4 linked regions of the Homo sapiens genome follow. The protein of the gene in region 2 interacts with the protein of the main gene of each other region in a biochemical or structural test. Each region holds a gene or a part of one and is shown on either strand. Other genes may lie near its edges.

What was found.
Region 1: the proteins of MAGI1 (region 2) and KCNMA1 form a complex in vitro, tested with the Homo sapiens proteins (one study listed by BioGRID).
Region 3: the proteins of MAGI1 (region 2) and CYSLTR2 interact in a test that uses a peptide from one of them, tested with the Homo sapiens proteins (2 studies listed by IntAct, with this or other methods).
Region 4: the proteins of MAGI1 (region 2) and CRHR1 form a complex in vitro, tested with the Homo sapiens proteins (2 studies listed by BioGRID and IntAct, with this or other methods).

The regions. Positions count from the first base shown.
Region 1 is NC_000010.11:77,627,328-77,635,045, forward strand, and holds part of KCNMA1 (Calcium-activated potassium channel subunit alpha-1), read right to left. Parts: exon of another isoform or gene 6,783-7,718; intron 1-6,782. UniProt on the Homo sapiens protein: Potassium channel activated by both membrane depolarization or increase in cytosolic Ca(2+) that mediates export of K(+). It is also activated by the concentration of cytosolic Mg(2+).
Region 2 is NC_000003.12:66,035,807-66,043,837, forward strand, and holds the start of MAGI1 (membrane-associated guanylate kinase, WW and PDZ domain-containing protein 1), read right to left. Parts: upstream 3,113-8,031; 5' UTR 2,503-3,112; coding exon 2,190-2,502; intron 1-2,189. UniProt on the Homo sapiens protein: Plays a role in coupling actin fibers to cell junctions in endothelial cells, via its interaction with AMOTL2 and CDH5. May regulate acid-induced ASIC3 currents by modulating its expression at the cell surface.
Region 3 is NC_000013.11:48,705,751-48,712,266, reverse strand, and holds the end of CYSLTR2 (cysteinyl leukotriene receptor 2), read right to left. Parts: intron 5,451-6,516; 5' UTR 5,450-5,450; coding exon 4,409-5,449; 3' UTR 1,041-4,408; downstream 1-1,040. UniProt on the Homo sapiens protein: Receptor for cysteinyl leukotrienes. The response is mediated via a G-protein that activates a phosphatidylinositol-calcium second messenger system.
Region 4 is NC_000017.11:45,821,724-45,829,441, forward strand, and holds part of CRHR1 (corticotropin-releasing factor receptor 1 isoform 2 precursor), read left to right. Parts: intron 1-7,491; coding exon 7,492-7,598; intron 7,599-7,718. Other genes in the region: LINC02210-CRHR1 (CRHR1-IT1-CRHR1 protein), read left to right, coding at 7,492-7,598.

The sequences.
Region 1 (7,718 bases), on a different chromosome or scaffold from region 2:
GGGCTAAACCTTGGAGATACAAGGCACGTGACATTGATAAGGAGGTGAATTTATGGCCCAGCAACAGTCAAAAGCCTCCAGTCACAGCTGCTGACAAGACCGAAGAGACCTCAGAAGGCAAACTTCAAGAAACAACCAGAATGGGTCGTTTTCTGAACTCTGGGCAAAGGGGCAAAGGGAAACCACACTGTCTCAGGAGGACGAAGAACCCAGGGAAGCCATCAGGGAGAAAAATAAAGTGGCCTTCATGGAGGAAACACAAGTTAAGGTTAAGGTCATTCTACGTCTCAACACTGCGGACATGGAAACACCACCCAGCTCTGTCCCTTCCTGAACTGGATTTAGAATTTGAAATCTACCATCCACCAAGGCTTGTTCTGCATGTCCCAGACACAGACTAGAAGCAAACAAGGACTAGTGCAAACAGAAAGATCTTTCCAAGTTCATCGTAAGGTGGGTTTGTCCCCAGTGGAATAGTGGCCTCAGGAGATCATAAACACACTGGTAGGGTGGGCTTCCAGCACTGGGGAGGAATCGCACAGGGCCTGAGGCCCCAAAGCTTCCTTCCACCACTGTGAATTTATAGTTCCATGCGCTTCTGCACTTGTTAAATCAGGTCGCTATTTGTTGTCTACTAATCTACAAACCTGAAGCCCCCAGCCAGCAGAGGCCACTCTCGATCCCACCCCCCAGCCCCAGTTCACTCCCAAAGATGAAGACAGAGAGGACTGTCCAGTCTCTAAAAGGGAAGAAGGAGCAAGAACAAGACATGGAACCAGAAAATAAAATAAATACTCATCTTATACTCCCAACTTGAAATGCACATACAGGCAGCCCAACAGCCTGTAGATAATTTGGTTTACAATGATATGCAAAGATGCAGACCCATCGTGGCTGAATAGTTTCGTACAGTTAGAAGTGACCCTGGAAAGAATATTACTGACAGTCTTGCCTTAAAAACTCTTTTGCAAAAGACATCATGGTCCCAGACTTCAGCAGTTAACAGATGGAAATTAACTTCACTTCAAGTCAAAAACCTAAAATCTCGCCGGGCGCGGTGGCTCATGCCTGTAATCCCAGCACTTTGGGAGGCCAAGGCGGGTGGATCATTTGAGGTCAGGAGTTCAAGACCAGCCTGACTGACATGGTGAAATCCCGTCTCCATTAAAAATACAAAAATTAGCCAGGCATGGGGCATGAGAACCTGGAATGCCAGGTACTCAGGAGGCACTAGAACCCTGGAGGGAGAGGTTACAGTGAGCCGAGATCATGCCACTGCACTCCAGCCTGCCAGCCTGGGCAACACAGCAAGACGGTATCTCAAAAAAAAAAAAAAATCTAAAATCCTATTTTTCCTTTTTAAAAAAACACCCCTTCCCCAAGTAAAAGTCAACTCTGATAATGGGGAGATCTACATAATGTTTACCTTAATTACTTCTTCCCCAAATTGAAGTATTCCTCCCTATTGTGCTAGAAACCAAAATTAAACAGCACCAACTTTCCACAGAAACCCTCAGGAATGACAGCCACTAAGGAAAAAAGGATGTAAAAGAAAGGATGGAGCAAGAGGAGGAGGGGGAGAAGGCTGGAATTCAGGCTTTCCTGTGAATTCGCTTTGAAATGCCTAGAGGCCACTGGATCTGAGTCCCCAAGAAAATCTGGTAGAGAGGCCAGTGAACCAGCATAAAGAATAGAAAATAAAGGAGATGTGTTAAATAATTTTGATTTTGGCCACGTGAAGAAGTATTAGTCATACAGGTAACAAGATCTTACAGGGAGATGATTCCAAGGCTCGGCTTGACAACGTTAAGTGTATATCCATTCTGGGCCTGGAGTGCCAATTACATTTCCAAATTGGCAATTAGACACAATGTCCCAAGACAATCACCAAATAATGCCAAAAACAAAGCAAGTTCCATCTTAAAGCAGCCATTCTTTTGAAACTGCCCTTCCCTCCCGTGCCTGACTCATCCACCTCACAAACAACTGCCCATTATGAACTAAATCCTTGTTAGCTACTGATCAAGAGAAACCAGGTGGCATGAATAATTAAAATCCACGAATGATTCAAGCACCATGTTGTCAACAAACCAAGCCCATCTCTTTCACCAGGAGTTTCTCCATAGCATCTAACAAATTACCCAAAAAAGCAGGAAAATATATTTGCCACCCCCAACCAATGCATTCTCGTTCAGCCCCCAGCTAACTACTGGAAAGAGCCTTCCAACATCTACGTGTGTTTACATTTGCATGACTCAGTTCCTGCCCTCAAGGAGTTTGCAGGCAATTCAGAGATCAGATGTTCATATTCCATGAGAAGATAACTGTTTTTTCCTCTGCTCAGCCTGTCAAGTACTAATAAAAGCCCTAACAAGCAGGGAGTCAGAACTGGGTCTTAATTATTTTTCCCCCAGCACCTAGCTTGGTTTCTGGCACATCGTATACACTTAATATGCAACAAAAGCAAAAACAACAACAATAATTATAACCAGAAGACTTCTTTGAGGGCCTACTGTGTGCAGGCCGCCACGATGCTAGGTCCTTCTTCATTCTGCCTGCTGCAGACACTCATGGTGCTCCCCTCTGATGATGAAACAACATAAAAAGCACATCTCATGGAAAAAGTCCCTGACAGTGTGAGCTGTGAAAAACCCTGGTATGGTGAGAAAAGGAGCTACTTTCACTTTCATCTTCTGGAATTCTTAAGAAGTGCATTGGAGGGCCACACAGCACGGTGCCACGCGTGTCCCCCAGTCACTCCACGGGCAGCTCTTCAGCCAATTCTTTGAGGTTGAACCCTCCATTTGGGAAGGCCCACCCAGGCCCCTACAGAAAATCAGGCTGGCAGTCTTAATGCCCACTGACTTCAAACACTCCAGAGGGAGTGGTCCCCAGCCAGCCTGGGGCATCACCGCAGTGCAGCCCTGGTGACACCACCAGCCTTTAATTTTGCAAGGAGGTAGTTTGGCTGGGTTGCCCTCCTGGACTTCGGGAAGTCACACCCTTTGCAGAATGACCAACTGGCACGAGGAAGAGCCCACACATTGGTGGGTAACACACAGACCACACCCTGTAAACACTGCTCTGGCCACCACAACCCAACCCTAAATCCACAACGCTGATGGGTTCCTTAGGAGCAGGCACCTGGACCATCAGTTTTCGCAAATAAGAGCCCAGCCCGAACCACAGCTACCCTGGTCTGAAAGGAGTTTTCTCCACCCAACGATCTGGCAGAGCAAACCTTCTGCTTCTCATCCCTTCCCCCTTCAAGAGCTGGGAATTTCCACATTTAAAAATAAGCCTGTCTTCAGGGATGGACTGCACGGAGGCTGAGGGATGGACCAGATCCTTGATACTCAAAGTGTGGTCTGCACAGCATCAGTATAGCCTGTGTCTCGCCAGACCAGCATAATCTCAGGTCCCACACTGGATCTTCTGAATCACAGCCTGCATTTTAACAGCTCTCGGTGATTCCTGAGCATATTAAAGTTTGACTAAGCCAGGCACAGTGGCTCACACCACTGTGGGAGCACTTTGGGAGACCAAGATGGGAAGATCACTTGAACCCAGGAGTTCAAGACAAGCCTGGGCAACATAGGGAGACCCCATCTCTGTAAAAAATTTAAAACCTAGCCAGGTGTGGTGGCACACACCCATAAGTCTTGGCTACTTGGGGAGCTGAGGCAAGAGGATCACTTGAGCCTGGGAGGTTGAAGCTGCAGTGAGCAGTGATCATGCCACTGTACTCCAGCCTGGGCAACAGAGTGAGACCCTGTCCCAAAAAAAAAAAAAAAAAAAAAAAGTTTGAGAAGCCCAGGCCTAGAGACACTCTCCAGTCCTTGGAGATAAAGATGTGATATTCCCACTGAACATTCCCCAGGTTTTCTGTCCAAAGTGCTAGGACACCCTTGCCTCCGAGGGTCCCTGGGTTTCCTTTTCTAGGTGCCTAATGCGTGGGGTTCCACCCACCCAAGAAGCAGTTCTAAAAGAGACATCCTTGGTCTGCTCCCTGACTGTGCACAGAAAGGCATGGCCCTGTCTGATCCCCAGGGATGTCTCCAAGGGACCCAGTGTTCCCCACACGGCCCAGGGCCTGGCATCACAGCACAAACAGCCCTTTCACTGGAACCACAAAGGCGACCTTCCAGGGGATCTGCAGCTTGGCAAGGTGGTATTGGCTGCTGTGATTCACAGATTAGCATGGTCACTGCCAGTGTGAGCCGGGACGCCCACTTTGGGAAGGAGGTCCTGGCATTGCAATCGAATGCCAATGTAACTGTTTCTGCACCAGGCCTCTCATGCCCTGATGAGAGAGAGAGAAAGAGAGAGACAGCCCCAAAGCAAGCACTTACTCCTGGCTATCAGCCACCAATGAATGTCCCCATCCAGGGAACAAAATAGCTGTGAGGCAAAGAGAAGGTCCATTTGGACTTACCATTGGAATGCTTTATCCCCCAGGCCAAACAGCAGGGGGCAGGCAGCTCTTCTTTTCCTCCTGTTGTATGTTTGGTCAAGTTTCCTGGGCACCTAGAAGCAGGGCTAGCCCAAGGCTCCCAAAGGGAGGCCATAGGTTCTCAGTGTCCTCCTAGGAAATGCTATAAAATGGGGTTGGTGAAAAAAACCACCCCATGAGGCTGTGCTCTATCACAGACCTCAATTTGCAGGTGAGGAAACTGAGGCACAAAGGCATGACGTCTTTGCCCAGGATCACAGGCTGAACCTTGGGCACTGCACAGCACCCCTGACACTGAAGCAAGACTGCTCACAGGTAGCACATTTGAGGGCATTTTAACCACTTTCTCTACCAGCAGGATGCCGCCAAGCCTGTGATGTGGCCCTCCAAAGGGGAAGCTCAGCCACGCCATGCCTGCTGATTTTTTTTCACAAGGTAATTTAAAAGGCAGGTGTGCCACAGAACACACTTGGGGAAACCTGGCCTAGGGGGTGTCTTGGAAAAGCTGGTCTGGGTAGACAGTGAGTGTCCTGGCCAAGAGACCGTGACATCACTTGGGAGACAGGTCTATGAGTTCTGGACTTGGGATAACAGGGATGGAATTTGTCCCTCCTCAAGGGTACAATGCTGGACAACCATACCTGCCCACCAAATGCCACAGTGTTTCCCTTCTGCCAGCCCAGCAGCTCCTGGTCCCCCATACTGTCGATGTTCGTCCACTGATACCCCACCATCAAAACTGTAACCATCCTGCCAGGACCCCATCCGTGAAGCCTACCTCTGCTGCCCTGCCCTAACTTTCCAGCCTTGCAACAGCCAAGAGCCATAAGCCCATGTCTCAGTCTGACTCTAAATGGTTTTTTGATCTATGACAGTATACTTCAGGATCTAAAGCCTCCTTTTGGCTCAAAAACTTTATTTGTTATAGTCTGCGCCCTTCAGGGGCTATAAGTTCAATGAATCAAAGGGAAAATAAACTCAGCACTTCATGAAGCTATGATAGTTACCACTTACAAGAGGCCTGCTAAGTGTCTGGCATTTGCAGGGTGCTATGTGCCCATTATTCCTGCTCCCTATAAGAACCCTACAAAGTAAGCATCAGTATGCTCTTGGTATAGGTGATGTAACCAAAGCTCAACATGGTTGGCAGTCAAAGATGCCCTGCTAATAAATGTGAGATCCATGATTTGAACTTGGGTTTGCCTGATTGCAGAGTCTTGTACTAAAGTGTGCATTTCCATAAAGAGGGCCAGGGGCTGGACGCCGTGCCTCACGCCTGTAATCCCAGCACTTTGGGAGGCCAAGGTGGGCGAATCACAAGGTCAGGAGATCAAGACAATCCTGGCCAATGTGGTGAAACCCCGTCTCTACTTAAAATACAAAAATTAGCCAGGTGTGGCAGCGTGCGCCTGTAGTCCCAGCTACTTGGGAGGCTGAGGCAGGAGAATTGCTTGAACCCAGGAGGCGCAGGCTGCAGTGAGCCAAGATCGTGCCGCTGCACTCCAGCCTGGGTGACAGAGCGAGACTCCATCTCAAAAAAAAAAATTAATAAAAGGAGAGAGAGAGAGAGCAAGGAATGAGGAGCACGAGCTCTCTGGACAAGGGCAGGTCAGCTGGAGCTCCCCCGTGACTAGGACCCAAGAACTCCTCCAAGGCCACCCCAAGTGATCTGCTCAAAAAGGAGTATCTCAAGGTCATCTGGTGCAGCCAATCCCCAGGACAGGATGAGATGAGGCACAAGGGCCAATCTGGAATCAAGAGCTCCACGGCACTGAAGCTCCAGCCCTGATTGACTGCGTCAGGCCAGACCCTGGGTAATTACCAAGCTGTAATGGGATCTGATATTTATATTAGTCACGAGCCTGACAGAGAAAACGTGTTGTTTTCTCAGGCACAGCCATGGAGACAACATCTCGATAATTCATTACACGCAGACCATCCTTGATCAAGCCCAAGCTTCTACAAGGCCAACAGCTCAAACTGAGAATGGAAATAACTCTATGCCCAGCCACACTCAGGCCCCTCAACAAACCACAGCTCCAACAGGAAGTTGGCCTCAGTTTCCCCAGTTATTTAAAGAGAAGTAGACCACATGCTGGAAGACGAGCAGAAGATGGAAATAAAGATATGTAACTGTCCCAAGGCTGAATTCCTAAAGGAATTGCTAGGGAACTGCAAAACACATTCTGAGCTAGAAACTTTAACCCTCATTCCTCAACTCCTCCCTCTCTCCTATATCGAATCACAGAGCAGGAAGGGACATTAGAACTCACAGAATTCAATCCCCACATTTTATACACAAGGAAAGATAGACACCAGAGAGGTTAAATAACTTCTTCAAAGTCATGGCTTTATTCAGGCTACCAGAGCAGCTCCCTATTCAATATAGTCTATGACAGGATTGAACTTCACAACGTCACACCCAAGTGAATAGAGAGCTCTGATGAAATCCCACAAGGAAAAAAACAATAATGTGAAAAAGTACAGCAAAGAACACAGTACTGGAATGACTGTGACCAAGTTCCCAACAGGAGGAAATTGTAATGTTTTCTTCTTCACTTTCTGAAAAAGTCCACATGCCACTCTTTTCAAAAGACTAAAGTCATTCACTGTTTGAGATTCAGAGGCCAAAGGTACTAATGAAGAGATGTCCCACGATGCATGTCCACAGTCTTGGGTTCCTTTGATCAAAAAGGTTTGGTGCGATCCCAGAGACCAAACGCTCATGAAATTGGAGCTCCTTGCTGAATTTTATCTCCCACAGAATTTCAGACCTGCTTTCCTCTGGACTCCAGCTCTTGATCAAACCATCTTGGGGCTGAAGGAGGGTGAGGGTGAACCCATCTGAGGGCTGGTAGAATTTTCTGGAAAGGCAGCCTATGTTTTCTTGGGAAATCTAGCACAAAAATTATTATTCTAAGCTTAAGCCAAATACATGCCTGTGTATCGAGTCTTGACAAAACTACCAAATACTTGGAAAGAAAAAAGAAAAAAAGACAAACACACACACACACACACACACACACACACACACAATTGCAATAAAAATACAGACCTCAAGCATAGAAAGAAAAGCTTTTAAAAGGCCTAACTTACCGTTACTGCATATAATGAGCTGGCTACCTATGGCTTAAGTGAGCAAATCTAGGGGCAGGTATCAAGAGATTCTAGGTGTGCTTTAAAATGGACTTACGGTATCAAAAGGAACCTGCACTCATTCTATACTGGCCTCACATCTTCCAAACAAACCACCATCACCTCTCAT
Region 2 (8,031 bases):
TTCAACTCAGAGGTGTCTGTTTCCAAACCCACTTGATTATCTCACCAAGCCTTCCTAAACTCCATGATGAGAGAGCCCTGGGACATCGCCTCCCAGAAATTTGGCAACTAGTGGAAGGAAGAGACACAAGCCCATGCAGCATCTTGCACACTGCAAACACTGCAAGCCAGCCCCTATTCAGGACCCGTTAGACACTGCGAGGCATCCCCCTAGTTGGGCAGGTACCCTTGCCTGTCCTTCCTCCACCCTTTCTCCAAAATGGTCCTGAACTGAGACCTGCAGCTGCTCCCATCCTATGCCTTCACACAGTATTTTCTCTACAGCCCTATCAAGTCATAATTATCCAGGTTCCTGACACTAAAAACTAGTTTCAGAAATAAATAGCTGCTAAAATCAATTCAAACATAAATAGCTAATCTTTATGGAGCACTTACTATGTACAGGCACTGTTGGGTGCACTTTCCACGTGTTAGCTTATGTAATACCCACAGGAAAGCCAGTGTGAGGAAGACGCATTGTCAGGCCAGGAAAGGTTTTGAACCTCAAGCAAAACCTGGAGAGGTATGCCAGGAATGAGGCACAATCTCTCCCTTTAATGAGCTCACTACCTTGTATGGAAATGAGGACCTAACTCAGAGTTCAGAGTAAGTAAAAAAGCCACAAAGTAGACATTAAAGGAGCCCAAAGGAGGAAGAATTTGTGCATCCTAGCAGGATTCTGGAGGGCTTCTTGGAGGAGGTATCCCAGTGGAGAATGAAGTCATAAATACAAGGAGCTTTCCATAGCTAAGTGTCAGCTCCTCAGCTCCCAAAGCTGCTAAAAGGCCAGGCGAGTCGGCCGCCCCCTCCTCCATTTCATCTGGAGCACGCCTGTTTCCAAGAGAGGACCAGCTAGGCCCAGCCCTTCCTTTGACACATTCCTCCAGCTGCTGCCTGTCCTTATGGAAACACATGGGAACTTTTCACCATGTTCAACTTCACGACTTCCTTCGGTGCTTTCACTGGGGAGAACCTGCGTCATGGCACTTGCTTGCACAAGGGAGCCCTTTAAGGGCCTCAGCTGGTCTCCATTGGGTTGACATGAGGACAGCCCCTTGTCTGTACCAAAGTGAGATGTAAGGGACCTACATCACCAGCAGCCAGCAAATGCATCTTTTAAAAGGCCTCTACAGATTTCTGAGAGAGGAATTTGCTTCCACTCCCTCCTCAGGAATCAGCCCCTTCAGTGCGGTAGGGTCATCCCCCCACTCCTTCCTCCTCCATACTTAAGGCTCTGCAGCAAGGGCTCAAACCCTCGCTTTTGGCAACTGTGTGACCTTGAGCAAGTCACTTAACCAGTATCAATCCCAGTTTCCTTATCTCTAATTTGGGGTATATAAATAAGAACAACTCGTTCTTAGAACTGTTGTGAATCGGAGTGAGATAGTGCAAGTAAAGTATTTTACACAGAGCCGGGCATGTAGTAAACCAACAATGAATAGTAGCTTCATTTTCATCATCAATAATGACGATGATGGTGGTGGTGGGAGGGTAAACTTGGACCCGATTCGAGCTAAAAGCAAGCACCCCTTCCCCCTCTCCCCCTCCCAAGTGTATGGCTGAGCCACACGGTGGAGACACATGCGTCATCCGGCTGAGGGGTGAATGCAGGCTCTTCTGGCGGCGGGCTCAGGAACCGCCAGGCAGTGGTGTCCTAGCTCACCTGGAGGGGTCGCGGGGTGAAGCAGATTTTCTGATGGGGGAGGTCCAATAAACTACAGACCCTCTCTTTCTGTATACCCACTCAGCAGGTATGGAAACTGACTCGTGGCCAAAGAACGCCAGCTGCATCCCTCCCCCAAGGAGCCAGGACAGCGTCCACCATGCCCCTGACTCAGTTCCCCAACTCTCTCTCGGGTGCAGGCGAGACTGCGCTGCACTTAGTGGCGGAGATAACAGGTTGGCCAGCCAGGCCTGAGAAACGTCCCCCCGCTACCTTGCGCAAACCCAGCCCCCTCTTCGAAACGCAGGTGGGCAAACAACCCTCAACCTCGCAACAACTTTGTGTATTTCACCGCCACCACAGGGCGCACGGCCTCAACTTCTCTTCACTGCGCTCCGAGGAGGGAAGCAGGAAATCGAGAATAAGGGGCAGCCCACAGACCACCCTCCTTTTCTCGGGGCGCCCCCCAAAGGCGCGCCCTGCCTTACCTTGTCTGACGGCCTTGAAGGTGACGGCCTCCTTGCAGCTGTCGATGACCCCCAGCACGTCATAGCGGGGCAAGCCGGACACCCGGACCCCCTGCACCTCCAGAAGCAGCTCCCCTTCGCCCAGCCTCGGGCCCTCGCCGCCGCCGGGAAGCCCCGCTGCCTCGACCGCCGCCACCGCTCCGACGTACGGAAACTCCCCGTGCTCCGCGCCTCCCAGCACCGTCACCCCCAGCTCGCCCTGGGGTCCCCGCTTCACGGTGCATTCGTGAACCCTGCTAGTCCAGTGGTTCTTCTTCTGGATCACTTTGGACATGATGAGTTACACCCCTCCTCCAAAAAAATAAAACGAGAGACAGGTGCCCCCCACAGCACGAGCCCCCAAGCCTCCGCTTGTTCATGGGAGAAACATCTCTCCCCAAATCACAAAACAGGAGAGAGAAACTTGGCAGCCTCGCTCCCCTGCACACGCTCGCGCACTCAAGCCATCATAAAACAAACTTTCTGGGCTTCCCCGCGAGCCCCGCACAGGCGCCCGCGAGCTTTGTTTGCATTCCGGTGCCTCTGGGTCCACGTTCCGGCGCCCGCCCGTGCTCTCCCGGACCAGAGTCCACTCTGCGCCGCTCGGGTTATTTTTTTTTCCTTCCTTCCTTTCTCTCTTGCCTTTTACAAATGCGGTGCCTCCTCTTTGCCTCCCGCCCGGCTCGCCTCTCCTCGCTGGCAGGCTGTTACTGAGGGTGAGGGAAGCCCTTCCAGCCAGTTGCCGGGAGCCCTGAAGACGCGGTGGCGGGGCGGCGGGGAGCAGGGCGGGAGGTAAGTGCTCGCGGCCCCTTTAAGCAGATACAAAGGCTCGGCTTGTTTTGTTACAGTTCATTCTATTCCGCGCCGCGGAGCGCAGCGGCCGGCGACAGGAGACGCGCGCGCATGCGCCCCGCGGCCGCCAGCCGGCCGGCCCACCCCTCCCCTCCTCCCCGAAGGGAGAGATTCCAACGTGCTTCCCGATGGGTCCTAAAACCGACCTGCCGGGAGAAGGCAACTCCCCCCCAACCCTTCCTGAACCCCTATCCTCTCTCCTTTTCTTTCAGTGCCCTGGACTCCGCGGATTCCTTTGGGGCTGGAGGGCCGCACACGTGTTTTACTCCAACTGTTTGCAACTTTTGAAACCCGGGCAATCTGGCTTTGGCATTTGAAAACCATTTCAAACAGGTGGGGGTTGGGGAGGCTGCCACACTCACCCTGGCGCTCACACTCACGCACACGCGCACGCACTCGCGCCGGCCCTAAGCCTCCTAACCGCCCTCGGCCAGTGGCTGGCCAGGCTGTCGGTCACCCAGCCCGGCTGGTTCGCCGCCCCCCTTGCCGCAGGTCCCACTGAAACCCCCGAGACCCGCCCCGGGGCGCTCGCCGCCTCCCTGCCTGCCCTGCGCTTGCGGGTTCGGGTCCTGGCGCGGGGTCTGCCAGGGTCTCTGCGACCCGGGGGAGGGGGACGGTGGGATCCTCCGGTTCCCCAACTGGGATCCCTGTGCGGGTCACACGCGCTCTTACACACACCCGCATCCTTAAACTTTGGGACCAACTTTTTAGGACACGGGAAACTACAGGCAAGAGAGAGAAGCCATGGTGCTAGTGTGGGTTCAGGTATTCAACCAAAAAAGAGATCCCTCTAGCTTTTCAACTGCCCTGCCAGCAGAGACTGCTGGACCCAGTCAATCATCTGCCCCGGCCTCAAGTTCCTGGCAGGGCCGAGAAGCCTGCGGACCTACTCCGGGGCCAGGAGATAAGGATCCCCGCCGGGCGCGGACATGCCCTGCGTCCTGGCGCCCGCGGGGGCGTGAGAGAACTCGGAATTCGCAGCCCGGGGGTAGCTGCGGCCTCCGGAGGTCGCCCGGGGGTGCGGATGGAGTGACTTCTGTCCCGGCGAGGTGGCGGACAGAAAGACTCCCATACCACAGGAAGGCTGCCCTTCCCAAATACTCCTCAAATCAGGCTGCTGAGTAGTCTCCCCAGCAGTTTGTTTTCCTCTTTAGTGATGTATAATTTTGTTCATCTTTGGTCACAGGAGAGATTCCAAGAAATGAGGGGGGTACGTTGAAACGATGAAGAAAGGATGGACACAGCAGTCGAGGTTGAGAGGTAGGCTCAGGGGTCCACCCTTGTGTGACCTTGAGCAAGCTTGGTGACCTCCGCGCCTCCGTTTCTCGCTGATCAAATAAGTAGAACAAGACCTCACAGGGTTCTTGGAAGTATTACGTGGGAAAACACTTATAAAGTGGCAAATAATAAAAACTCATTATATTCTTAATAGTAGTATTACTATTTGGGAAGAAAATTGGGAAATCATTTGGGGATTCAAGTTAGTAAGTATGATAATTTATCCTCTCCTTTCTAGAACTTAGAAAATATGGGCATACTTTGTGTGTTTGTTTTTTGATGGTGGTGGTGGTGTTTTTAGAAACGTGGTCTTGCTTTGTCCCCAAGCTGGAGTGCAGTAGCTCGACTAGCTGATTGTAACCTCGAACTTCTGGACTCAAGCAATCCTACCACCTCAGCCTCCTGAGTATCTGGAATTATAGGCACATGCCACCATGCCCAGCTAGTTTTATTTTTTTGATTTTTTGTAGACATGGGGGGGTCTCCCTATGTTGATTGCCCAGGCTGGTCTCAAACTCCTGGGCTCAAGCCAACCTCCTGACTCAGCTTCCCAAAGTGCTGGGGTTATAGATGTGAGCCACCATACCTGGTTTAGGCATACGTTTAAACATCCTTTTAAAGCATTGTAGGGTGCTATTCTAAGCTAATAAAAGTAAGGAGGGATGTTGATGCTTCTCTCTTGGGATATCCAGAACTGAAAATCCCATTGCATTGTTGTGTTTCTGAAAAAAGGAGGTGACCAATTTTCCATGGCTTTGCTTGGTGAGAGGAACTTTGTCTCCAGCTTTTTTTCAGAAGCAATCTAGGTCAATATGAACAGCACTTCAAAACATAAATTATCAAACCCGAGCACAGATCCAGCCAATCAGAATGTCAAGGAAGGGCTAAGTCATTTGAACTTTTAAGGTTCCCCTTATGTGTTGTTGGTACACAACGCTGAGCACCATAGGTTTAGTATCTTGATTCCAAAGCATTGTTTGGGTCCCAGACCTTTTTGTCAAATAAACCTGTGATCCACATCTCTGTGTAAAATAAAAACTCAAGGAGGTCAGGACACTTTGACAGTTTGGTTTACTGATGTATTATTCCCAGTTCCTAGAATGGTGCCTCGTACTAGCAAATGCTAAAATATTTGTCAAATGACTCTTTCCACAAAAATGTACATTTTTACTTTCCATGTTAGTGGGGAGTCACAGATTCCCCTGCAAATCATTAGTAAGCTTAGTAAGCTTAGCCTTGTGTGTTTCCCCACTTTGCCACTTCATATTCTAGTAAAGTGTAATTGTTTGCTAAGAATACCCACAACCAACCTTGAATTAGGAGTCCCCTACCTCTCCACTCAACTCTCACCTCTGCCTGGGGGAGTCCAAGGGCTGGACAAGACCAGGCGTTTTGTGATTCCTCCCAATGCAACAACATCCCCCTCTTGCCAGGATTCCAGGTGTCACCACAGCAGCTGAGAAAGGAAAGAACTTGGAATTTAGCATACGTCAGGTTTTAGATGTGGAAAAGCCCCAAAAGAAGGAGTAGTACCTGTGGGCACAGAGGGCAATATGGAGAGAATAGACATTATTCTAATTCAGGAAAAGGAAAAATAATTTGAACCTTCAAAGTAGCCAAGGCTGCCAGTTTCCAGGATGCTCCCTCTGCATCTTCCCGGCTGGTGTTTCACCTGGTCTAGTTCCTGTGTCCCAGACTGGAGAAGTTCAAGGCAGAGATCATCTCTCTCCTATCCAACCTTTGAAACCTCAATACCAAAAACCATGAACCATGCCTTGTGTGGAGTGTGCACCATACACAGTTGTTGAGTGAATTGATGAAGTGTGACATGAAATTGTTGAATAAATGGATGAAGTATGACATGAAATTGTGTAATATGTGACCTTTGATCCAAAGCCAGTTTAGATTTGGTTGCCAAAACAGGGGTATTTATATTAGGTTGGTGCAAGAGTAATTGCAGGTTTTGCCATTACTTTCAATGAAAAGAGCTTATAGTTATGTCATTGTGAAGTAGATTTTTCCTGAATAGATCTAAGATCCTAGTATTCTGACTTGTCTCACTTTAGCTATGAATTTGGCAATACATTCTGTTGGGAGAAATAATGCTATAAAATACCTAACTTTCAAGCTTACTGTATATGTCAGCGTAGTGATGTGAGTTGGGGGTTTTTTTGTTTGGTTTTTGTTTGTTTGTTTGTTTGTTTGTTTTGAGACAAACTCTCACTCTGTCATCCAGGCTGGAGTGCAGTGGTGCCGTCTCGGCACACTGCAACCTCAGCCTCCTGGGTTTAAGTGATTCTCACGCCTCAACCTCCCAAGTAGCTGGGATTGCAGGAGTACACCACCATGCCCAGCTAATTTTTGCTTTTTTAGTAGAGACAGGGTTTTGCCATGTTGGCCAGGCTGGTCTCAAACTCCTGACCTCAGGTGATCCACCTACCTCGGCCTCCCAAAGTGTTGGGATTACAGGCGTGAGCCATCGCGCCCAGCTGATGTGAGTTATTTTATGCAATCACCACAGTTGTGTAAGGTAGGAACTATCAGGAATGACCTTGATTTTATAACTGAGGAAAATGAAGCTAAGAAAGTGAAGAAACTTGCCCCAGAGCTTACAAGTAACAAAACCAGGAAGTGAACCCGGAGGCATGACCCAAAACCCATGCTCAGAACACTGTAGTCTGAGAGGATAGGATGTGGCCATTTAGCATATTTGGGTAACAGCATGCTCTGGACTCTTGAATCTGCTACATAGTGTATACACAGTAATTAAGTCCCCCTCCTTTCTGTCTCTTCACTTTAAGCTAAAGGATACAGTGTTTCACTCCAGAACTCAATCTCCTGTTCTCCATCTATGGGCTTTGAAGATTCAAATAATTCAGGAATGCAAAGAGAATTAATTTGCAAACATTTCTACAGTGTTTAGGCTGCAGTACAGGTGACATGCCAAACAGTCTTATATTATTGCATAAGCATTTCAACAATGAACTCCTAATACAGAGGGTAGATTCAGCTGAGAAATAAACTATAACAGAATAAACACTAGACAAATTAAGATCTTATTTGTATATAGCTAGTTCTACTAGGGGGAAGAAAAAAAAACGAATATGAAATGTGCATTTCTTTCCCTTCTCCGAAATATATTTCTTTCCAAAGTTTTCCAGTTGTGATTAAAGAAATGTGTCATTGCAGTTTAAAGTGGTAATTTTCCTCCTTTTTCTGAAAATATGAGGATGGGAAATAAGTTGGTCAGTTGCAGGGGCAAAGGAGGACATATAAATTGGTTATTTTTTTAATTTCTGAAGAAAGCTATCAGGAGGCATACATTAGAGGTTTTAGTATAAATAGGTTATATACGGTAGGGTAACCGACTCCAAACAGGTAACTCAGGGCAGAAGACCAGTAGGGGAGATTGAAGCCAGGGTAGCTTCCTCTGACCATAGTATTCCTCCCTTTAGTACTTTCAGCTAAGCAAGAAAAAATAAAATGTTGTACTTTGGCAAACCAAGGTGGATGATCACTTGAGCCCAGGAGTTCGAAACCAGCCTAGGCAACATGGTGAAACCCCATCTCTATAACACATACAAAAAATTTGCCAAGTGTGGTGACATCCACCTGTAGTCTCAGCTACTCAGGAGGCTGAGGAAGGAGGATTGCTTGAGCCCAGAAGGTCGAGGCTGCTGTGAGCTATCATTGC
Region 3 (6,516 bases), on a different chromosome or scaffold from region 2:
ACTTTTGGCTTTTGCTATGGTAAGTAAAGAGTTCCATTTTGTTTCCTCTCCAAGGACATATTTCAACAAATAGGAGGCTTCACTCTGGCTGGAAAAAGGAAAAGTAAGCCATTACATCTCTGTCTCTGTCTGTCTCTCACATACACACACCATAGACATTAATAATTCACAACCCCTCTCTTATGCTCATCCTAAGGACCTTGGTTGCTCTGTTACTCCCAGCTTTATTTGGGCCATTTTGCCCTTGGAAAGTTGTTAAGGTTTCTCATTGACAATTGAAAATCCCTACGACTTCACAACCGAAATTCAAAATTTAACTTTTGCCCTTCTTCCTAGAGCCTGCATTTCCCCCCACCCTCCAAAGCTGCCCGGCTGCCTGCTCAGTTACATGCCACACCCAGCATGGATGCTTAGCTGGTTGGCAGCTCTCTCTCCACCTCATTTGCAGTACATATGTGGCCTCTGCAAGCCCCATTTCACCCCTTTCCCAGATGAGATTTCAGCGGGTTTCACCTCAACTACTTTAGGTGTGTACTGTCATCATCCTCATTCAGAGTAATCCATTCTTCATTAGTTTGCTTTAGAAACAAATAAGGAAGTGTGTAGTCTCAGGCTGCTTGCAGTCAGCTTGTTTCCATGAGAGGATTCACCCATGTGGCAGAGCCAACATCTGGGGAGGAAAGCCCACAGATGTCCTGGTTGAACAAGGCCTGAAGTCCAACTTCCCTCGGTATATTTCAGTTATATGAGATAATCAAATCCCTTTATTATGTAAGCCACTTGGGGTAGGGTTTTCTGTTACTTGCAACTAAAAATATCCCAAGTAACATATCAAAATCTCTCTAACCCCAGAAAGTGACTTTCCTCACCCCAAGAAAGGACTTGCCTCCCATGGCAGGACTAGATGGGCTTCTCTCAAGAACTGAAATACAACTCTGGTCCTTTCCTGCTTTCCTTTCTTCTGTCAATGTTCAGTTTCCATTTCTGATGGGCTTTCTTGTCTTTTTTTGTTTTTGTTTTAAAAAACAACTCAGAATTAGTTTGAATTTTAAAATTTAATTTTAACTTAATTTTTATTTTACTTCAGAAATACATATTCACAAGTTAGGCAATTACACAGTTCGTAAAATAAGTCCCCACCCTATCCTCCCACCCCAGCTTCTCCATAGAGGTAACCCCTGCCCATTCTTTCTTCTGCTTCTACCTGTATTTACCTCCTATTGCTAAATAATATGGTTGTACAGCTATTCATCATTTTCCAGATTTAGTTATTATGCATTTTCTGTGATAGAATATGGCAACCTAGGTCTCTTATACCTCTCCCACACACGTACACATCTTCTCCCTTCATTTCCTGAAAAAAAGGTTATATCACAGTATTTCACTCCAGCAGCACCCCCTTATCTGTGGGAGTTGCATTCCAAGACCCTGAATACGAATAGCACCAAACCCAAATAGTACCAAACCCGATTGCTGTCAATTGGAACACATTTCTGTTCATGTCTTCCACCCACAAATTTAATACCTTTTCATCTTAACTAAGTGTTTATCACACACCGTGGGGTGTAATAAATAATTTTTGCAGCTTGTGGTGCAACAGCAAAACTAGCACAAATTTCTTTTGCCTTCTTCACAATTTTACAGATGGATTTGTTCTTACTGTAGATCTTAGCAACTTCAGCATGTGTTTTTTTTCTTTCCTTATTAAGTCAAGAACTTTCACATTTTCTGTTAGAGGAAGCACTTTACAGCTTCTCTTTGGTGTATCTTATTTGCCAGCATCACTACTCTTATGCTTTGGGGACATTAGTAAGTAAAATAAGAGTGACTTTAACACAAGCACTGTTATACCACAACAGTTGATCTGAGCAACTGGATGATGACTAAGTGACTCATGGGTGGGTAGCATATACATTGTGGATCCACTGGAGAAATCTCACACCATCCCACTTTGCCCTGCCCAGAACATGGGTGGAGGGTGATAGTGCGAGATTTCAACATGCTACTCAAAACAGCACATGTTTTAAAACTTAAGAATTATTTCTGGAATTTTCCATTTAATATTTTCAGACTGGCTGGCTGTAACTGAACTGCAGAAAGCAAAACCACAGATAATGGGAGACTATTATATTCACATTATCCTCTATGTAAATATTATTCACAGCTGAGCCATGTAGTGTACTGTGGTTATATTTCCTCTCTAATACAAAAGTTTCTTTTCCTCTAGCACTTAAAAACTGTATTGCGTTTTTACTTGCTTATTTTTCTATGTATTTACGACTAGTTTATCTCAATCTCTGCAAGAGAAATCTAAATCCCTCTCAATGTGTATGAATCAATTAATTTCTTCTTTTTCTGGGAGACATCTCTCCTAGAGTCCTTTAAGAGTCCTGCTCCAACATGAATGACTTGCTTTCTAAGCCTGCTACACACCAACATCCTGGGAATTCTCTTCACTTTCTCCTGCGTTGGATTCCTTGTTTCCCAGCTACTGTGTTTTCCTCTATCTTGGTTTAATCTCTTATTTTGGAGGATCTTTTATACTCAAAAGGTCTCTATCTACTCTCACATTTATTTGTTGGTGCCTTTCATGTTACGGCCTTTCCCTCAAATGTATTGTGTTCATTGACTACTTTTCATAATTAAGAATGAGGCTCTGACAGGTTGACCAAATGCTGTGAGTGGAAGGGATTTGTTGCATTGTGGGCTTCATCGTCAGGTGAGTAATAGGGCAGACACGCAGCTTTTGTGTTGAAGGATCCTCAACTATTTGTATCTGTCAGCCTTTTTTTCAGATTATGCAGTTTCCCCATAGGAGGATCCTCCAGGGTCCTGTCTTGACAGGGTTTGAGTCTGTCTGTCATCATTCTGGTAGCTAAATAAGGAAAGGGTACTGGGATTTTTGTTTAGTATGATGACTGACTTAGTCCCTCCCTACTTTCAGAATGCCATATCACCTCCACCCTTTACTGTACTATGAGTCAACAACTCTGAAGAGAAACTTTTGGTTTTCTTGTGAGAGTGAGGAGGGGGAGGAAATTGGTAGGAAAGGACAGCTTTTATTCAGACTTTCAACCAATCTTCCTGGAAGTTTACAAGGGTAGTGGTGGGGAGAGCACCCAGCCAACACTTCTGCACAGAGATTTTTAAAACTCTTACTAGCTGTGTAAACTTAAACAAGCTTCTTAATTTCTCTAAGCTTCAATTTCTTCAGCTGTAAAATGGAACTCAGAGCTTTGGTGTGAATGTCAAATGGGATCAACAAATGTAAAGTGCCTGGCATAATCTGCCCTGCAGGGAGACTGCATTCAATTGTTGTCAGTACAATGGTCATGGTGATAGTAGTTGGTAGTATCCTTAGCCTTGTTTCAGTGGACAGAAAGGAACCTCTCACACTATCTAGTGTTTTTCTACACTATCTCAAAAGGGAAGGCAGCATCTCCCTACTCATCTTCTGCGGAAATGTTAATAGAATTTCAGGAGTGCAACAACTTTTGCTATTTGCCCTCTACTCCATCTTTCCCTTGAGTGCTCAACCCTAATCCTCAGAGGCACCTCTTTTATTTTTGGCTTCCATCCCAATGAATTAATGGGAAGGAGAACTGCAGCAAGGTCAACTAACCTGCATCTCAAAGAAAATTTGAGATACATGTCCTTGATGATCCCCCTTCCATTCTATACACAATTCTTTCATTTCCTAGGGCAATGCCCCAGATCCTCCTCCTACTTTTCCTGTCCTTCCTAATACCCTGGCAAGAGAGAAACAGTAGAAATAGGGTTGCCTTCAGTGTGTTAGAACCTCTCTCCCAATGCAAAATGAAATTCTTCCTTCCCCTACTTATTGCCAGTTCTCTTTTGCTCCAATCCTTCTCCCCCTTTTCTCTCACTGTCCTTACTTGGGACTTGATGCTGCTTTGTTATAGGACAGCCTTCCTTTTCACAGTTAGTCTTTCCCTGAATCTTAGGATGTGCTTCTTTTCTGCTCTGGGGCTTCCAGTAGCGTCGTTAGTTGGCTATATCTCAAGGGATTGAAGAGGACAGGGGAGCTGGAGAAGCTGGGGAAGTTGTGGCTCTTTTGAAGAATTTAGAAAGCCTGATGGGCCAGAGATCTGGTTCAATATCTGAAGAAAAGTAGGATCCAATGTGCTTTGCATTTTTTCCCAGTCTGATATTTCAGCCCACAGGACTCTAGTAGGGATTTTTCCTCCTGTATCCCTCATTAAGACTCAACAACTGAAAATACACTGAATAAAATTTTTGAAGTAGGTCTTATTAACAAAAGTAATGGTCAACTAAATATTAAGAATCAACATTTGTTGGGAGTGATGTAAATACAAAGTCATTTGGAGACTATGAGTGAATGAAGATGGACACAAGGATACAAGAACAGGTCTCATCTAAGAGCTCCTTATACTCTTGTTTCCTTTCTCAACCACACACTAACAGGGAAAACACACTTTGTCTTTGCCTTCTGTGGATGGCCTTTTCTGAGTGCAGACTTTAGTCTGTCCTTAAAATTCTCCCCAGCAAAGTAATAGAGCAGAGGATTGAAGCAGGCATTGGCTGCTGCCAAGGCCAGTGTGATAACCAAAGCTTTATGCAGTCTGTCTTTGCATAAACCCACTTTCCATGTCGTCAAGTGGACGGTCCTCAGTGTGTGATAGGGCAGGAAACACAAGAAGAAGATGATCAAGGTGATGATGATGGTGGTCAGTGCCTTCCTGTGAGAAACCCGCAGCCCCGATTCTGGGACCTCCACTTTTAACAGAACCCGAATGATCAGCAGATAACAGATGCTGAGTGTGAAAAATGGCAGCAGGCAGCCCACCACCAAGGCAATATAGTTCATGGTCTGCAGCTTAGCAATTTTATAGAGATTCAGCTCTAAGCATGATGTGACACTGCCGTTCTGCTCAGAGCCACTGTCCAGGAGCATTATTGAGGAAGCCATGATAAGGATCCATATGATCCCACAGAGGATCCAGGCACTCCTGATGCTGGTGACATGCAGAAGCCGAAAGGGGTGAACCATTGCCAGGAAACGCACAACACTCAGCACGGTCAGGAAATAAATACTGCTGTACATGTTGACATACAAGGAATAAGACATAATCCTGCAGGCCAGGTCTCCAAATATCCAATTGGAGCCTCTAAGATAATAGTCAGCCCTGAAGGGAAGCGTGCTTATGAACAGGAGATCTGAAATGGCCAGATTTAGCATGAAAACGTTCACAGATGTGGACTTCTTATAAGGCTGCAGGAAAACATATATGGACAACCCATTTCCCAAGACTCCCCAGAAAAATATTATCAGATATACAATTGGGAAAAATTCTCTCTTGAAGTTTTCAATTGTGCAGTTCCTGCTGTTGTTATTGCTGAAGGTGCCATTTGGTTCCATTTCTGATACGGAGATGGATGGTTGCAAGGACATAAATTTTCTCTCCATGCTGGGTTAAAAAGAAACAGACACAAAAAGTTACTTTGTGAATTTCCCTTTTTCCTTCTTGCTTACTGATTACATCTCTCTAGGTTTTAATGAAACAGGGAGCAATACTATCTTTTCTTTGAAAGTTGAGTTTTAAAACACTGGTTAAGTCTTTACTACATGCTGCATTACATTTCATAATAAATTTAAATTTCCTGATTTTTGAATGTAGAATAGCCATTAATTTGTTTGGTTGAAGCTGACGCTTCAAACTTAGAGAACTTGTGACCTACTGACCCTGTTGACATGAATACCTTACTATGATATTGCAGCCTAAAACTACTGAATAGCAGATTTCTCATCAGAAACTATGGAGGACAGAAAGAAATGGCACATTTCTCAAATGCTGAAAGAAAAGACCTGCCAAACTAGTATTCTATGTCCAGCAAAAATATCCTTCAAGTACAAAGAGAAAAATCAAGACTTTTTCAGACGGAAAACTAAGACTTTGCTGCCAGCAGACCTATCTTAAAAGAATGACTAGGCTGGGTTTGGTGGCTCACGCCCGTAATCCCAGCAGTTTGGGAAGCTGAGGCTGGCAGATCACCTGAGGTCAGGAGTTCAAGACCAGTCTGGCCAACATGGTGAAACTCCGTCTCTACTAAAAATACAAAAATTAGCGGGCCCAGTGGCAGGCACCTGTCACCTCTGCTACCCGGGAGGCTGAGGCAGGAGAATTGCCTGAACCTGGGAGGCAGAAGTTGCAATGAGCCGAGATCATGCCATTGCACTCCAGCTGGGGCAACAAGAGCGAAACTCCATCTCAAAAAAAAAAAAAACAACAACAAAACAAAACAAAAAACAAACAAACAAAGAATGACTAAAGGAAGTTCTCTAAACAGAAAGGAATTTATAAAAGAAGGAAACTTAGAATATTAGAAAATAAGAAAGAACATGGTAAGCCAAAATATGTGTAAATACAATAGGCTGTCCTTCCCTTTTAGAGTCTAAGTTACATTTAATGTTTTGAAACAAAAACATTAATGCTGCCTGATGTGGTTTTAAATGGATGTAGAGGAATTATTGAG
Region 4 (7,718 bases), on a different chromosome or scaffold from region 2:
CTGGGCATGGGACTGTCCTGGGGGTGCAAAGGGAGACCAGACTCGGTCACAGGAGTCCCACCCTTTTCCACAACACATGCCTGAGAGATACATCCAGTTCCAGCCACAGGGCTGTATGGAAACCAGGGACGGGATGGAGGTAGCAATGCAGTTTGAAAAAGCCCTTGGAAAGCCTTTTAAAATGTTAAATGTTTTTGAGCAGATATTGCTTACACAGAACTCAGAAGGTACAAATGGGAATACAATGTCCCCTCCCACCCCGTCCCCAGCCACTGGATTCCCTCCCAGAGGCAACCATTTTGCCAATTTCACAAGTGTCCTTCCAGAGACATTCTCCGCATACACGAGTAATTTTGTATACGTATTCTTTTTTGTTTTTACCTGAATGTTGCATGTTATACACACTGTCTACACCTTGCTTTTTTCATATAATCATCTATCTTAGAGATGGTTCCATATCAGTACATAAAGAGCATCTTCATTCTTTTTGCATTTGCATAATATCACAAAATGTACCATAACTTATTTAAACCAGTCTTTATTCTCAGTCTTTAGTTATTACAAATGCTGCTGCAATGAATAATCTTTGAAGGGTGATATTTGGCAGAGGCACAAATATATCTATCCTGGAGCTGCTACTGCCCTCGGTCTCTCCCACCCTGTCTCCTTTCCCACCCGACGCTTTCTCCCTTGGTGCTGAGGAAGACGGGGGTCAAAGGGCAGAAGGGGGGACACCCCAGGCTGTCCGAGGGCCAGGGATTCTGATTGTGGAAGAGAGAGACTGACCTAAGCAGTCCCAAGAATCCCGTCGCCTAAAGATCAGAGCTGGAAGGGACCGTGGAGACTCTCCTTCCCATCTTGAGGTTCCCAGACTTGCCTGGTTATAAGAATCGTCCAGAGGCAGATCTCCTGAGGTCAGGAGTTCAAGACCAGCCTGTCCAACATGGTGAAACCCCATCTCTACTAAAAATACAAAATTAGCCGGGTGTGGCGGGATTACACCTGTAATCCCAGCTACACGGGAGGCTGAGGCAGGAGAATCGCTTGAAACCAGGAGGCGGAGGTTGCAGTGAGCCGAGATTGTGCCATTGCACTCCAGCCTGGGCAAAAAGAGCGAAATTCCATTAAAAAAAAAAGTGGGGCCAAGTGCGGTGGCTCACGCCTGTAATCCCAGCACTTTGGGAGGACGAGGCAGGCAGATCACGAGGTCAGGAGATCGAGACCATCCTGGCCAACATGGTGAAACCTCATCTCTGCTAAAAATACAAAAATTAGCCGAGCATGGTGGCGCATCCCTGTAATCGCAGCTACTCAGGAGGCTGAGGCAGGAGAATCACTTGAACCAGGGAGGCGGAGGTTGCAGTGAGCCCAGATCGCGCCACAGCACTCCAGCCTGGCGACAGAGCAAGACTCTGTCTCAAAAAAAAAAAAAAAAATGGAATCTCCCAGAGCACTTGTCCAAATACAGGTCCCAGGGCCACACCCAACACCTAAGAAATCACACTGTCCAAGGAGGACCTGGGAATCTGTGTCTTTCATGAGTGCCCCAGGGGAGCCTTCTGATGGGGCAAAAGTGAGAAACTCTAATCTAGTGCGACCCGTTCACACTACAGATGGGGAGACTGGGGCCCAGAAAAGGGGAATGATTCACACAAGGTCACGTGGCTCTGGGACATTCCCTTTTTTTTTTTTTTTTTTTTTTTGAGACAGAGTCTTCCTCTGTCGCCAGGCTGGAGTGCTGTGGCGCGATGTCGGCTCATTGCAACCTCCACCTCCCTGGTTCAAGTGATTCTCCTGCCTCAGCCTCCTGAGTAGCTGCGATTACAGGAATGCACCACCATGCTGGGCTAATTTTTGTATTTTTGGCAGTTAAGTCAGAGCCCGGAACCCAGGGCTTTGGAGCCCAGGCTCCGGAGCACAGGCTCTGCAGCCCAGGCTCTGCTTTGCCCACTGCCAGGTATCTGGCGTGAAACAAAGTTAACGGAGAAAGAATCACTTTCCTTCACCTGTAGCTCCCACCCCGGCCTGGCAAGCTTTGGTTAGCCCCACCCCTGGCTTCCTGGCCTCAAGTCACTGAGCTAATGCGGGGCTCTGCTGTCTCCTTCCGGAAGCTGCAGCTAGGTCAATGCCTAGCTTAAAAGACTCACGAGTTCTTCCACGGTGCTGCTCTGGCAGGGCGAGGGGCTGCCTGGCATCTCAGATCCCACAGGCCAGACCTTTGGGTGGCACTCAAGGCTGGGGTGGGTTGGTCAGGCTCCCTGATGATCTGATCTGAGCAGGGAAAGCCCTCAGCTTGCTAAGCCCCCACACAGAGAGCCCACCTGGGAAGTCCTGGGATTGGGAGGAGGGCTCCTCCTGGACTGGGGGAAGGAGGTGGGGTTCCAGGTTAGGAGACTTAGTTGGGCCAGAGGAGATGGCCTTGGCCTTGGCTGGTGGGGTGGGAGTGGGCAAGACCGTTCAGGGATGTGAGGAGCCCGTAGCCTGGCACACAGTAGAGGAGGTGGGAGGAAAGGAAACAGGGCTGGTGCTCAGAGGAGCGGGTCAGTGCTGTCAGTGACTCAGGACCACACGCCATTGCAGAGAGGGATGGTGTCCAGGAGGCACAGCTAAGCCATGAGGTCAGGCTGCAGGCCGCACTGTCTGTCCCAGCTTCACGCCCTGCACTCAACCCTCCTGAGGGTCAGCGCGGGGTCTTCGTGGTTCACCTGTCTCTCCTGCTCTATTGCAAGCCCCTTCTTTTCAGTTGGCTGATGGGGACACTCGGCAGCCCCCATTTTCCCCAGCACCCTTCAAAGGCCTAAGGGCAGTAGGTTAGCCACCCTCAGCCTGCCCTGCAACACCCAACCCTGCCAGGACAGGGGTCTCTACCTCTGTCCACCAGCAGGGTTAGGACAAGGAAGAGGATCGGGAGCCCGGTCTCATCAGCCCCCTCTTTGCATTGCAGTGGGAATAGCACGGACCTTAGGGTTTGGGTTTCAACGGGAACCTGCTGCATGACCTTGAGGAGGCAACTTAACCTCACCAAGTTCCCAAAAATGGTGGCCAGGAATTCAGATCTCTGCCTTCTGGGGATGGAAGGGTGGTGTTGGCCTGTCTTGGCCTATGGGAGACGTTCCATTCACCTGCCGCCCCCTGTCTCTCATCTCCCCTGTGAGGTCAGGGGAGGTTGTAGTGTACACCTGGGGGAGTGACCCGCCCCACCCCCCAGCCCATCCGTGCCTGGCTCTGCCATCTCTTTCCTCTGCAGCCCCTGCTGGCCTGGTGCCTAGCACTCTGGGTAATCGATTAGTTTAATTAGTGAAAATGCCATTCCCTTCTGCCAGCCCCCAGCCTCGCCAGACCCCTCCCAGAACTGCAGAGGAAAGTATCCAATTAATTGAGTGGTAGGTTTCTCAGCTCTGGGCCTGGGCTAAGCCCTAATTAAGCTCCAGCGCCCTGGGGTATCGCAGATAATGGATTCGCAGAAGTCTGCCTGTGAAATGGGACTTGCAAGGGCACCTCAAGGCCAGGCACCCCAGGAGATCTGCCCGCAGCCAGCACCACCAGGGGACAGGCCCCCAACTGTTGCATGCATGGCTGGCCGGGGGATGGCACTGAGCCCCCAGCACCACCCCTACACCTGCTGCCTGTATCAGCACCCTCTCCTCCCCCCACCACCTCCCGCTACTACTGTTCACTCCCTTCCCCACCGTCCAGCCTTCCCCCACCCACCCAACACTTGCACACACTCTATCCCCTTTCCCCACGTTCTGCTGCGCACAGGAGCCTGGGCCTCAGGCACAGCCTGGGAGAGCACACCGTGGTGGGACATGAAACGGATTCTGGGGGTCTGGTTTGTGGACCAAGGTTCACTGCTCACCGTGTGGGGAGAGGTGAGTGGTGGTTGGACCAGGGCTTCTGAACTGCAGAGGTGCTTTTTCCTAAAACCAAGCTCCGATTCCATGGGCCTGGCGTAGGGCATACATTCCACTTTCCTCAAGATCTCTGCGTGCTCCTCTGCGTGCTGTTGCTGGGCCAGGGGCCACCCTTTGAGGATCGAGGGGCTGGAGTGAGTGCCCACTGCAGGGTAAGAGGAGTAGCTCTGGAAGCCTCGGTGGAGAGGACGTGCCAGAATGGAGTGGGCACCAGTGGGGAGCTTGGAAGGGAGGTCTCATTGCCACCAACCCAGAGAGGCATCAGGACGGATCTGGCACTGCAGCGCCTGGGACGAGGTGGTGTCCTGCAGAGAGTCCAGTCAGAGTCAGCCGGGCACAAATTGCTTATTCAATTCAGATCACTGAGGGTACAGCGGAGTGGCCTCTGCCAAGTACCACGCTGTGCCACCCTCCTTAGGGCGGGGTGCCTGCTGGTCTTAGGTCTCCAGACTGGATGGAGATGGAGTGCTGGTCAGGGCCCGAGGGGTAGCTGTGCCCATTTGTCCTTCGGACATCCCAGCTGCTTTGCTGTTATCGTGGCCATCGGTCGGGGTGTCACTGGCTGTCCCTGGGGGTGCTGCTGACTCTCCTCTCCAGGTATCACTGGCCACCTCTCAGGGTGTTCCTGGGTGCCTCTTAAGGCCTTGCTGTCTCTCTAAATAATGCTGGCCAGAACTCTGGTTGTTATTGGAAATGTCACAGTGTCACTGGCTTCTGTCTGGGTGTCGCAGGATGTATTTGTCTCAGGGTATCAGCAGCCATCCCTCAGGCTGTCTCTCCAGCTGTCTTCTCAGGTTGCATGATGCTGATGTGGCCGATGAGAGACAGGGCTTGAACCCGGCCCAGGCCCGACTGCTCAGGGAGGCACACTGAGACTTTGTCCCCCGGGAATGGTTTGGCCTGATTCTCCCTCAGGCTCTTGGAGGAAAGCCCTCTTGGGCGCTATTGTCCCAGCAGGAGGTCCCCCGAGGCTCCTGGGCCCAAAGTGGCGTGAGACCACCCCAGAGAGTGCCTCTGCTTTCAATTCCTGCTTGTCCCCCAAGAAATGTCGCAGGGGGCCGGACACGGTGGCTCACGCCTGTAATCCCAGCACTTTGGGAGGCCGAGACAGGTGGATTGCCTGAGCTCAGGAGTTCGAGACCAGCCTGGGCAACATGGCAAAACCCCATCTCTACCAAAAAATACAAAATATTAGCTGGGCATGGTGGTGCATGCCTGTGATCCCAGCTACTCGGGAGGCTGAGGCAGGAGAATCACTTGAACCCAGGAAGCAGAGGCTGCAGTGAGCTGAGATCCTGCCACTGCACCACTCCAGACTGGGCGACAGAGTGAGACTCCATCCCTCCCCCACCCAAAAAAAGAAATGTCCCTGGGAAACAGGGAAAAGAGGGAGCTTAAAGCCAGGCAGACCCAGGTTCCAGATACCGGCTGCGTGGCGTGGCCAATTATTCAGTCTCTTCTACGGAAAGAACTGGGATGAGAGGAGCAGTCTCCAAGGGCAGCTGTGGGAAAGAAAAGCAGTAGTGTCTGCAGAGCTCCTGGCACAGTGCTCAGCATACAGCAGGTGCTTAACAGATAACTCCTCCCCACTCCAACCCCAAGGGCCCGGTACGGCCTGACTCGGGAGTGAGGCAGGGGCCCTGGAAGGCAGCACTGAAGGGTCTCCCTGCACACTGCGCTCCTCCCGCCCAGCCTGGGCCTGTGAACAAGGCCGGGGTGTTGTGCCATGCTCGGCTCCACACATGTTGTCATTACCCAGGGGCTTCTCAGCATGGATTTGTGGAAAATTTAATAAAAGGATATTAAATACCAGCTCCAGACAGCCTGTGATGTGTGCATATCTTCCAGAGCCTCCGGATTGGGGCATCTGCCGCCAGGCGCTCAGAGACCCTCCCCACTTGCACGGGTGATAGGTACCCTCTCCTCACTCCCCTCTCTGTCTCTGTCTCTCCTGCCTTCATTTACACCTCCCTGGATCCCAGTCCTTTGGAGGCTGGAGTTGCTAATGTAATTACCTGCCATGTTCCAGAAAGCCTCTGCCTGGAAACCAGCTCCAAGAACAGAGCTTCTGTAGCAGCCTCTGGAGAGGTTCCCCAATGAGGGTGCTCCTTCAGAAGGGCCTTGGTGGCCGGGCGGAACTGGGCATAGGGTCTTGGCTTCTCCTGGGATGCCTGGTGGATAGGGCTGGACTTGATCTCTGGTTTCAAGTGGGTTCTGTAATTCCAACAGGAAGGCCTATGGAGTAGCTCCTTGGTGGCCAGTAGCTCCTTGGTGGCTCTGAGAAGATGATGAGGGCCGTTGTGAGCTCAGTGCTTCTCAGCACTTGCATGTCACCCACCTTTGTGCCTCATGATCATTCAGCCCCACCCTAGAGCCTAGAAACGGGGAGGAAGGGAGGTGCTGCCAGGGACCCCTCCCTTCTCAAAGTCACCTGCTTTTCAACACCCGTCTTTCCTTCCTTCACTCACACACTGCTTTGGAGTTTGACTGCGTGTCAAGCTCTTGGTTTCTAGGCCCTGCTTCTTGGGACCTATAAAAGTGTGGATGGGGGCTGTGCTCTTGGGCAGGAGTCTGCAGAGAGCTGGGCATGGGGACTGACCAGTCCCCTATTATGGGCTGGGGACCTGTTTGCAGCCTTCGTATCTTGCCAATCTACATGTGCAGGCAAGAGGTGGTTTTGGAGTTGCGCGACCTCCAGCGCGTCAGCATAACCTCTGTGCTGTTTTCCTACAAAATAAAGCCCAGATGCCTTTCCGGCTCCCCCCACGGGGTTGCCCTGATGGTTTAAGACGATAACAGATATGAAAATCCTCTGTAAACAGGAAGGCTTCACCACTCTTGGAACTCAAGATTGCTGTAAAGAGGAGGGCAGTGACCTCCATCAGTATATTAAATTCATTAAGAAATAAACCCGGGGAATGTGTTACAGTCCTGGGAGAGGATCCTGCTCACTCTGCACAGATCCCCTTGGGCCAGGGATGGGGAAGGCCCCGGAAAGTGAGTTATGGAGCCTAAGGAGACTTTTCTGTGGTTTCTGCTGATTCTGTGGATGCCAGAGCCCAGCAGCTGCCCGGCCCCTCCTTGCTCACAGGAGCAGGCGGCATTGCAGCAGGAGGGATTTAGGGGTGGCTGAGAAGGTGGTGACTCAGTTCAGAAATGGGTGGAGAAGAGAAATCCCGGGAGTTTGGTGTCTCTGCAGCTGAGAGGTCCACCTGGTGTTCTGACTGGGTGGCAGCATGGGTAGATGCGAGTGTGAGGGCGCACCTGTGAGCCGGCCACATGTGCTTGTGCATGCAGGGGCGGGGGGTCCATGTGGAGTGGGGAATCCCACGTGATGTGGAGATTCAGTTCGACACAACACGGAGCAGTGAACACAGCATGGGATTCAGGGACAAGCAGAGCCTCAAACTGGACGGCGTTGCTCTGCAGCGAGGCCTGACCCTCAGCAGATGCTCAGGAAGGGGGAGTGGCCCTTGAGATCATGACCCGCTCCATCCCAGCCACCCCTAGGCGATGTCCTCACAGAGCAGCTCCCATCCAGCAGAAGGCTCACCTCTGCCCCTCTCTCCTGCTCCAGAAAAAAAGCAAGGTGCACTACCATGTCGCAGTCATCATCAACTACCTGGGCCACTGTATCTCCCTGGTGGCCCTCCTGGTGGCCTTTGTCCTCTTTCTGCGGCTCAGGTGAGAAGACCCCAGCACTGCCTCCTCCTGTCCCCAGGACCTAGAGCAGAAGCAGGGTGGAGAAGTGAGAGGAGCAGCTCTAGGTTGGGGTGGGGGTTGCTGGGAGAGGGTGGCAGGGGC